2 linked regions of the Homo sapiens genome follow. The protein of the gene in region 1 purifies or fractionates together with the protein of each later gene. This does not show direct contact. Each region holds a gene or a part of one and is shown in the gene's direction. Other genes may lie near its edges.

What was found. Proteins that work in one complex are often made in the same cells at the same time.
Region 2: the proteins of PLEKHG7 (region 1) and BCAS3 purify together in Homo sapiens (affinity purification with mass spectrometry; one large-scale study listed by BioGRID and IntAct). This does not show direct contact.

What each region holds. Positions count from the first base shown.
Region 1 is NC_000012.12:92,737,489-92,740,988, forward strand, and holds part of PLEKHG7 (pleckstrin homology domain-containing family G member 7), read left to right. Parts: coding exon 1-33; intron 34-3,364; coding exon 3,365-3,460; intron 3,461-3,500.
Region 2 is NC_000017.11:60,676,704-60,680,650, forward strand, and holds the start of BCAS3 (BCAS3 microtubule associated cell migration factor), read left to right. Parts: upstream 1-1,147; 5' UTR 1,148-1,211; intron 1,212-2,749; 5' UTR 2,750-2,754; coding exon 2,755-2,837; intron 2,838-3,947. UniProt on the Homo sapiens protein: Plays a role in angiogenesis. Participates in the regulation of cell polarity and directional endothelial cell migration by mediating both the activation and recruitment of CDC42 and the reorganization of the actin cytoskeleton at the cell leading edge.

The sequences.
Region 1 (3,500 bases):
TATTTTTTGGACCATTTATTAGTTCTTAAGATGGTAATGCCAGGCTTAATTTTTGTAGTAGATGGAAAATATTAATTTGTTTTTTTGGGCACTTGTTTTCCTCTTCTGAAAGAAATAAAGAAAAGAAAGAGAGAAAAGAAAGAAAGAGAAAGAGAGACAAAGAGAAAGAAAGGAAGGAAGGAAAGGAAGGAAGACAAGAAAAGAAAAAGAGAGAAAGAGAAGAAGAGGGAGGGAAGGAAGGAGGGAGGAAGGGAGGGAGGGAGGAAGGAAGGAAGGAAGGAAGGGAAAGAGAGGGAACGGGAGGCCAGGTGAGGCTTTTTTCTCCCTCTTTCAGGGGATCGTGAAAATTTTTATTTGTCATTTATTTTTGTTTACCTATTACTCTACTGTCTCTTTATACTTTAACATTGGATGAGATCGTCTAAGTGAACTAGTCCAGTGTCCCATCCGATGTTGAATGAATCTCTTCTGCCTTGTCTCACCAGTTTGCACACTCCTGAGCCAGGGAGCTTACACCCTTCTCAGGCAGTCCATTGCATCTTTGCTCGGCTTTCTCTCTCGGAGCTCTTGCTCCCTCGTGAACAGTACCAGGTGAATGCTTTTTATCAGCTGCAGGGCCACCATTGCAGATATAGGGGGCTACCACCCACATGCAATTTAGTACTGTTGAATTACATGGTATATTCATGATGTCTTTCATGTAAATAGCACCCCTATGGTCGCAGCCATGCTCTGGTGAGGCTCAGAACACAGAATTTTTTCTAGAAGAACAATAGAGCAAGGAAGAGAACCATAGAGCAGCTTCCTCCCAGGACCACAGGGGAGGATGGGCCACACAGCTCCCAAGGTTGCCTCTGCCCACCGCACTTTTGCATCCTGGTGACTGTCTTACACAGCCAAAAGGCACTGTGCTGGCAGATCTGAGTTCAAGCCCTGGCTCTGCCTCTGTTTTGCCTTGTGACCTTAGAAAAGTCTAGTCCTTCATACCCTAAACCAGGGGTTGACAAATCTTTTCTGCAGAGGTGCAGACAGTAAATATTTTGGGCTTTTCAGGCTATATAGTTTTTGTTGCAACCACTTAACTCTGCCATTGCAGTACAAAAGCAGCCTAAAGGAATGTGCATGACTGTCACCCAGAAAACATCATTTACAAAAACAGGTGGCAGGCCAGATTAAGCTCACAGGCTGCATACTTTGACAGTCCTTGTCCTAAGCTGTAAAAGAGAAATGACAATACCATCCCTGGCTATCTCATAAGACCATTATGATGATCAAATTAGTTTTCTTTGAAATCTATCAAGTGCTATACAAATGTCAGTTATTTTCTGTAAGTAATATTTTTTGTCAATCACAGTGCTAAATCCTTAACTTAGCAAAATGTGAACCGCAAAGACACTCTAGGAGAAAACTGAAATTTAGAGACAATATCAGTTAGGATGCTTACAAGAGCACGTAATAGAAAACTAGCTTAAATAATACAGGATTTTATTAGTCCATGTGACTGCAAAGTTCAGAGGTGGGAGAGAATTCAAGGCATGTTTGATCAAGGGCTCAAAACAAAACAAAACAAAACAAAACAACATTTCTTCCCATCTCTCACCCTGCCTTCCATGGCATTAGCCACATCCTATGGCTGGCTTCTCTTGTAGTCACAGCCTGGTTGCTATCCTTGAGCTAATGGCCAGAGAGAGAGAGAGATCTTCTCAGCATTCATAGCAGAAGTCTTGAGATTTATTCTGATTGGACTGGCTTAGATCACGTGCCCACCCGTGAGCCAAATCCTCTAGCTCTGTAAAGAAGGAATGTGCCAATTGGCTTAAGGCAGTCAAGGCCCACCCCTGGGAATGAGATCAGCTTGCCACATGGCACATGTGCAGCCTGGGGAAGAGTAGACACTGAGGTGAAAACCATGCTGTTTTTAGGGAAGGGGAGTATTGCAGGGGGTGGTAACAATAAATGTTCACCGCAGAGAACGAAGCCCCTGAGTTATGCCACCTTCCTTGTCCTAAGAAACTGCACAGAACTTTCTATCCCACTGTAAGCTGTCCAAGCTTTTCAAACTGACATTTCCTGTTTAAGAAAAGGCCAATTTGAGCTCACTGTCAAATACCTCAGTGTATTTAAAGTATATATGTACCTTCCTTTTACACAATCAATATGTTTTCCAAAAGTGCTTATGAATTAAAAATTTGTAACTCATATAATAAATATACTGGAAGACTCAGTATTTTTTTTAAATAGCAAAATTTCTGTAAAGCAAAGAATCTTATAGCAAAAGTAGTATTTCTTCCAAATTGTCCTAATCTATCTGTAGTAATGAGTTCTGTTTCTTACAATCATGTTTTAAATGCTTGGATATTGACAAATTTCCAGACAACCAATACTCCATGGATTTTAAAAGGTCTAAGTGGTTCTTGACAGGTGGCCTCTAGACCAGCAGCATCAGAATCCCTTGGTGACTTGTTGGAAATGCATGTTCTCAGACCCCGTCACAGATGAGGGTGGGGGCCCAGCAAGCTCTGGTGTAACAAAGTTGCCAGGTGATTCCGATGCAAGTTCAAGAACCACTCATTACACTAATGAAATAATACAGGAATAGGAATTGGAGAAGGTTATCTATCTAAAGCCCAGTCTTTTAACCCCTAAAATTCTTGAAATAATTTGTCCTTTTGTCCCTTTGAATGCTTCCTGTCTTATGTATACAAAGTATTTCTTTTTCAATAAATTGATCTCTCTTCAGTTTATAGAATGAAGGGCAGGCTATCTGTAAGTGAGGATTGTACTTTTTTTTGACTTGCTGTATAGTTCTCCAATTTGTGAAATCATCAAATTAAGTGAAAATAACATAAAAACTCCCTCAATGTTTTCATCCATGTTTAATGCCTCTAAACAAACTGAAACATTTTACCAGTTATCAGAGATTAACTCATTAAATATCTACTTTTAATTCCCTGAAAGTAAAGTATATTTGGGTCTTTTGCAGAAGAAAGAGCATATGAGAATACACCATGAATATTGTTTTGCTCTCAAGTTAGTAGTGTTGTTGGCAAGAAGAGAATCTTTGGGATTTCTTTGGCACTAGAAGTAGAGGAAGCCCATTTGGACAGATTATGTTCAATAGGAATGTTGTTAGAATTCACATAAGCAACCACAACTTTCATACTGAAAAGCTCATTTCCAATATGTTCTTTGAAGCTTAAATGTGACCATTTGTCTTGAGTATAACATTTAAACCTTGAGAGTGCTGATTTCTCCATTGTTTTGTAAAGTTACACCCAGGAGGTTTATGTTTAAAGTTCTTGCAAAAGGCATGTTGCAAAATTAAAAAACAGAAATTAATGTGTATATATTTTTTATTTCAAAGATCTTTATGAATACACTAAGATATCTGCAAACTCATGAATATCTCCTAGATGTGGATTTATGGAGACTTTTTGCAAACCTGGAGGAGTTAACTCAGGTGAGCCAAGTAGGAAGATTCATGTTTTAACATTCACTAG
Region 2 (3,947 bases), on another chromosome or scaffold:
TCTATCTATCTATCTATCTATCTGTCTTGAGAGGGACTCTCTGTCACCCAGGCTAAAGTGCTGGAGGGCAATGGCGTGATCTATAGGCTCACTGCAATCTCCGCCTCCTGGGTTCAAGCAATTCTTCCGCCTCAGCCTCCCCAGTAGCTAGGATTACAGGCATTGGCCACCACACCTGGCTATTTTTAGTAGAGACGGGGTTTCTTCATGTTGTCCAGGCTGTTCTAGAACTCCTGGCCTCAAGCGATCTTCCCGCCTAGGCTTCCCAAAATGTTGGGATTGCAGGCGTGAGCCACCACGCCCAGCCCACCACGCCTGTTAATAAGCTATACCCTCACGGACCTGTCATTGGCATTAAATTTGATAATACATTAGAGTATTGTATATGAAGTATACGAAGGCCTGTGCTGAGTGTTCAAGAAGTCAGTCAGTATTATTCTACTTATATTAATAAATGAACTGATGAAATGACAATGGCGAGATCTCGATCTTCAACAATAAGGGAGATGGAAACTGAAGCAAGAAGTGGTCTACAAACCTAGCTCAAATTGTTGAGATTACCGGCCGTGCCCCTTATTCAGATCAACCCCTCCTCGGCTGATCGCCGGCGCGAGCCAGCCTAGGCTCCCGGAAGGTAAACACATCGCCAAGGGCTGGGCAGAAGGCGGGTGTGGGACGGGTGAGTGGCCAGCTAAAAGTGATTGGCAGCTGCCATGTCCACGTGCTCCGAGCTTGGAACCAGCTGTCGCGAGAATTCGATGTAAACAGACCAGTCTCCCTGTCCTCCGGCTCCAACCTGAAACGCTCACGTGAGCGGGACAGGAGTCTGGATCATGTTGCTTTTCTTTTCAAAGCCACGAAGGTTCTGTCTTCCAAAAAAAATGTACATGTTCGTAATTATTCCCCAGCTGCCTGCGTTTGCAACCGAACCTGACACCTCGGCTTCACCCGAACTTACATGCTGTTGTGTTTTCCCTCCAGCCCCAGCGGATTGGACACATTCAGAAGGCGGGTCCGCCTCTTTCCTACTTGCTGGTTGGCGAAGCTGACCTCCAAGGGCGGTGCCCGGCCATAGCCGGTTTGCTTCTGGGATTGGCTAGAGGGGGTGGTTCCGCTGAGGCGTGGTAGGAAGTGGCTGCCGTCAATCACTCGGGGAGACTCCAAACAGTGAGCCTAGAGCTGGAGACTAGCGTTAACCGGCGGGGCGGCCGGTGAGAGGGCTGGCAGGGCTTTGGCTTTGGGGAGGCTTGGGGAGGACGAGGGACTGGCGGCGTGAGGGGACTGGGTCGGGCTGGCAGGAATTCGACAGGAGAGAGGTGTCGATACTGGAGGGGGAGGGGAACAGTGCAAGGGGCCGGAGGGCGGCCGGGGGCAGCGGTGGCTCCGTGTTGGAGGTTAAGTGGGCAGCGCCGTACGAGTGTCTTTCAGGAGACTGGGGCCTGAGTGGCTGGCGAGGGTCGTCCCCAGGAGACAGGGCCCTTAAAGGGCAGGGCTTGGGAGACTGTGGTTCGAGAAAGCAAGAATGGGATGAGAATGAGAGGGCTGAGGGGCTGGAGGTGCAGGTATCCTCTGAGGAGGTGGTGGCTCTGCTCCTTGGGGCAGAGGGTGTTTTGGTTGTAGGAGGTGGGGCGCACAGGTTTAGAGTTTTCACATCAGGTGTGAATGCTCCCTACTTAAAAATGGTTTTCGGTGCCTTCAAGATGAGTTCCAGGTTGTGGGCTTCCCTGAGCCCTGTAAGAGATCTTTGATATTGCTGTCAGTCCTCTTTTAACCTTAACCAAGCCGACTCCATGCTCTTAAAATCTCAGTGATTCAGAGGGTCATGAAACATTCTAGGATCAGGATTTACTGATGTGACGGGAAAGGGTAAAGGGCTGTAACAACGTATTAGTTTATGTTAGTTATTTGACTACTTGCTACTAGTCAAATAATTACTTGACTTATTTGTTATAGTAGCAGGGGGTTACGAATGTGATTTAAATTGTGATTTACTCATAGATTCCCAACAGGTTTAATTGGAAGGTAGAGTGATATCATGTCACTTGTTCCGTTTGGTCTTGAAATATTGTACCATGTGTATTTTCACTATCTCAACATAAAATTGCAGTAAATTCCCATCCCATGATCTGGTTCTCTCACCCTTGTAATTTATGTTAACAACAGACCAAGGGGTACAGCAGGAGTCTTCCTTACATTGTTTTGTGGTTCTGAGACCTGGTCCTATTAAAAAACAAAACAGGATGGGCGCGGTGGCTCAAGCCTATAATCCCAGCACTTTGGGAGGCTAAGGCGGATGGATTGCTTGAGCTCAGGAGTTCGAGACCAGCCTTGGCAACATGGTGAAACCCCGTCGCTACAAAAAAATATAAAATTTAGCTCGGCATGGTGGCGCTCGCCTGTAATCCCAGCTACTCAGGAGGCTGAGGCAGGAGAATTGCTTGAGCCTGGGAGGCGGAGATTGCCATGAGCAGAGATCGTGCCACTGAACTCCAGCCTGGGCGACAGAGCGAGACTCTATCTCAAAAATAATAATAACCCCCCAAACCCCTCATTATAATTTGAAAAAAATTAAAAACCTACTTCCTCCTTTTTTCCCTTTCTGGTGTAACAGGAATTTCTGGGAAAGTTTCCTACATTTGAGGCATTTTTGACAAGGGATCTCTAGTGAGTAATCATAAATCTTCCTCCCTACCCCCAACAACGATCCATGTTTTTCTGTTTTTTGTTTGTTTGTTTGTTCTGGAAACAGGTTTTATGAATGAAGCTATGGCTACAGATTCCCCAAGAAGACCCAGTCGTTGTACTGGTGGAGTTGTGGTTCGCCCCCAGGCTGTCACGTAAGCACATTTCAGATAAACCCAATAGCTGAAGAAAAGATTACTCAGAATACTAACATTTAGGTTTTCTTTATGAACAGTGGTTACTTTTGTAAAAATCTTTTAACTGTTGGCTTTATGGGATGAATAATAATAATTGCCAAGACCAAATGAAGAATTGGAGAGTTAAGTTGACGTATTCAGCACATTTACAGAGTACGTGAAGAGCACTATGCTAAATCCTGAAGAGCAGTGTTTTCAAACTCCAGGTTTAACAAATTAGTGGATTGTTAAATCAGTTTAGTGGGTCAGGAGTTGTAGTAGAAAATGAAATAGAGGCCGGGCGCAGTGGCTCATGCCTGTAATCCCAGCACTTTGGGAGGCCCAGGCAGGCGGATCACGAGATCAGGAGATCGAGACCATCCTGGCTAAAACGGTGAAACCCTGTCTCTACTAAAAATACAAAAAATTAGCCGGGTATGGTGGCCCCTGTAGTCCCAGCTACTCGGGAGGCTGAGTCAGGAGAATGACGTGAACCTGGGAGGTGGAACTTGCAGTGAGCTGAGATCGCGCCACTGCACCCTAGCCTGGGCGACACAGCAAGACTCTGTCTCCAAAAAAAAAAAAAAAAAGAAAGAAAATGAAATAGAATATAATAGAAAATTAGAAAATATAGCTGAGAGTTTGTATTGTTTCATGACATGCACATAAATATGTTCATGTGTATGTATATATTTACCAGACAGTGATGTAAAATGTATCTCTTTTAACTTTTAAGTTCAAGGGTACATGTGCAGGTTTGTTATATAGGGAAACTCATGTCACAGGGGTTTGTTGTACAGATTATTTCATCACCCAGGTATTAAGCATAGTCCCCATTAGTTATTTTTCCTGACCCTCTCCCCGCTCCCACCCAACTCTGATAGGCACCAGTGTGTGGTGTTCCCGTCTATGTATCCATGTGTTATCTATAAAAGGAATCTCTTAGTCTAGGTCTCTGTCAGAAAGTTTCAAAGTAAGTGTCATAGTATATGTCTCTGTTTTTGGCATTCTTTGACAAAGAATGTCTATACTTACTAGAGTGAGTTTATAATCTAATATGGTTTGAAGATATGTATACTTTTTTTTTTT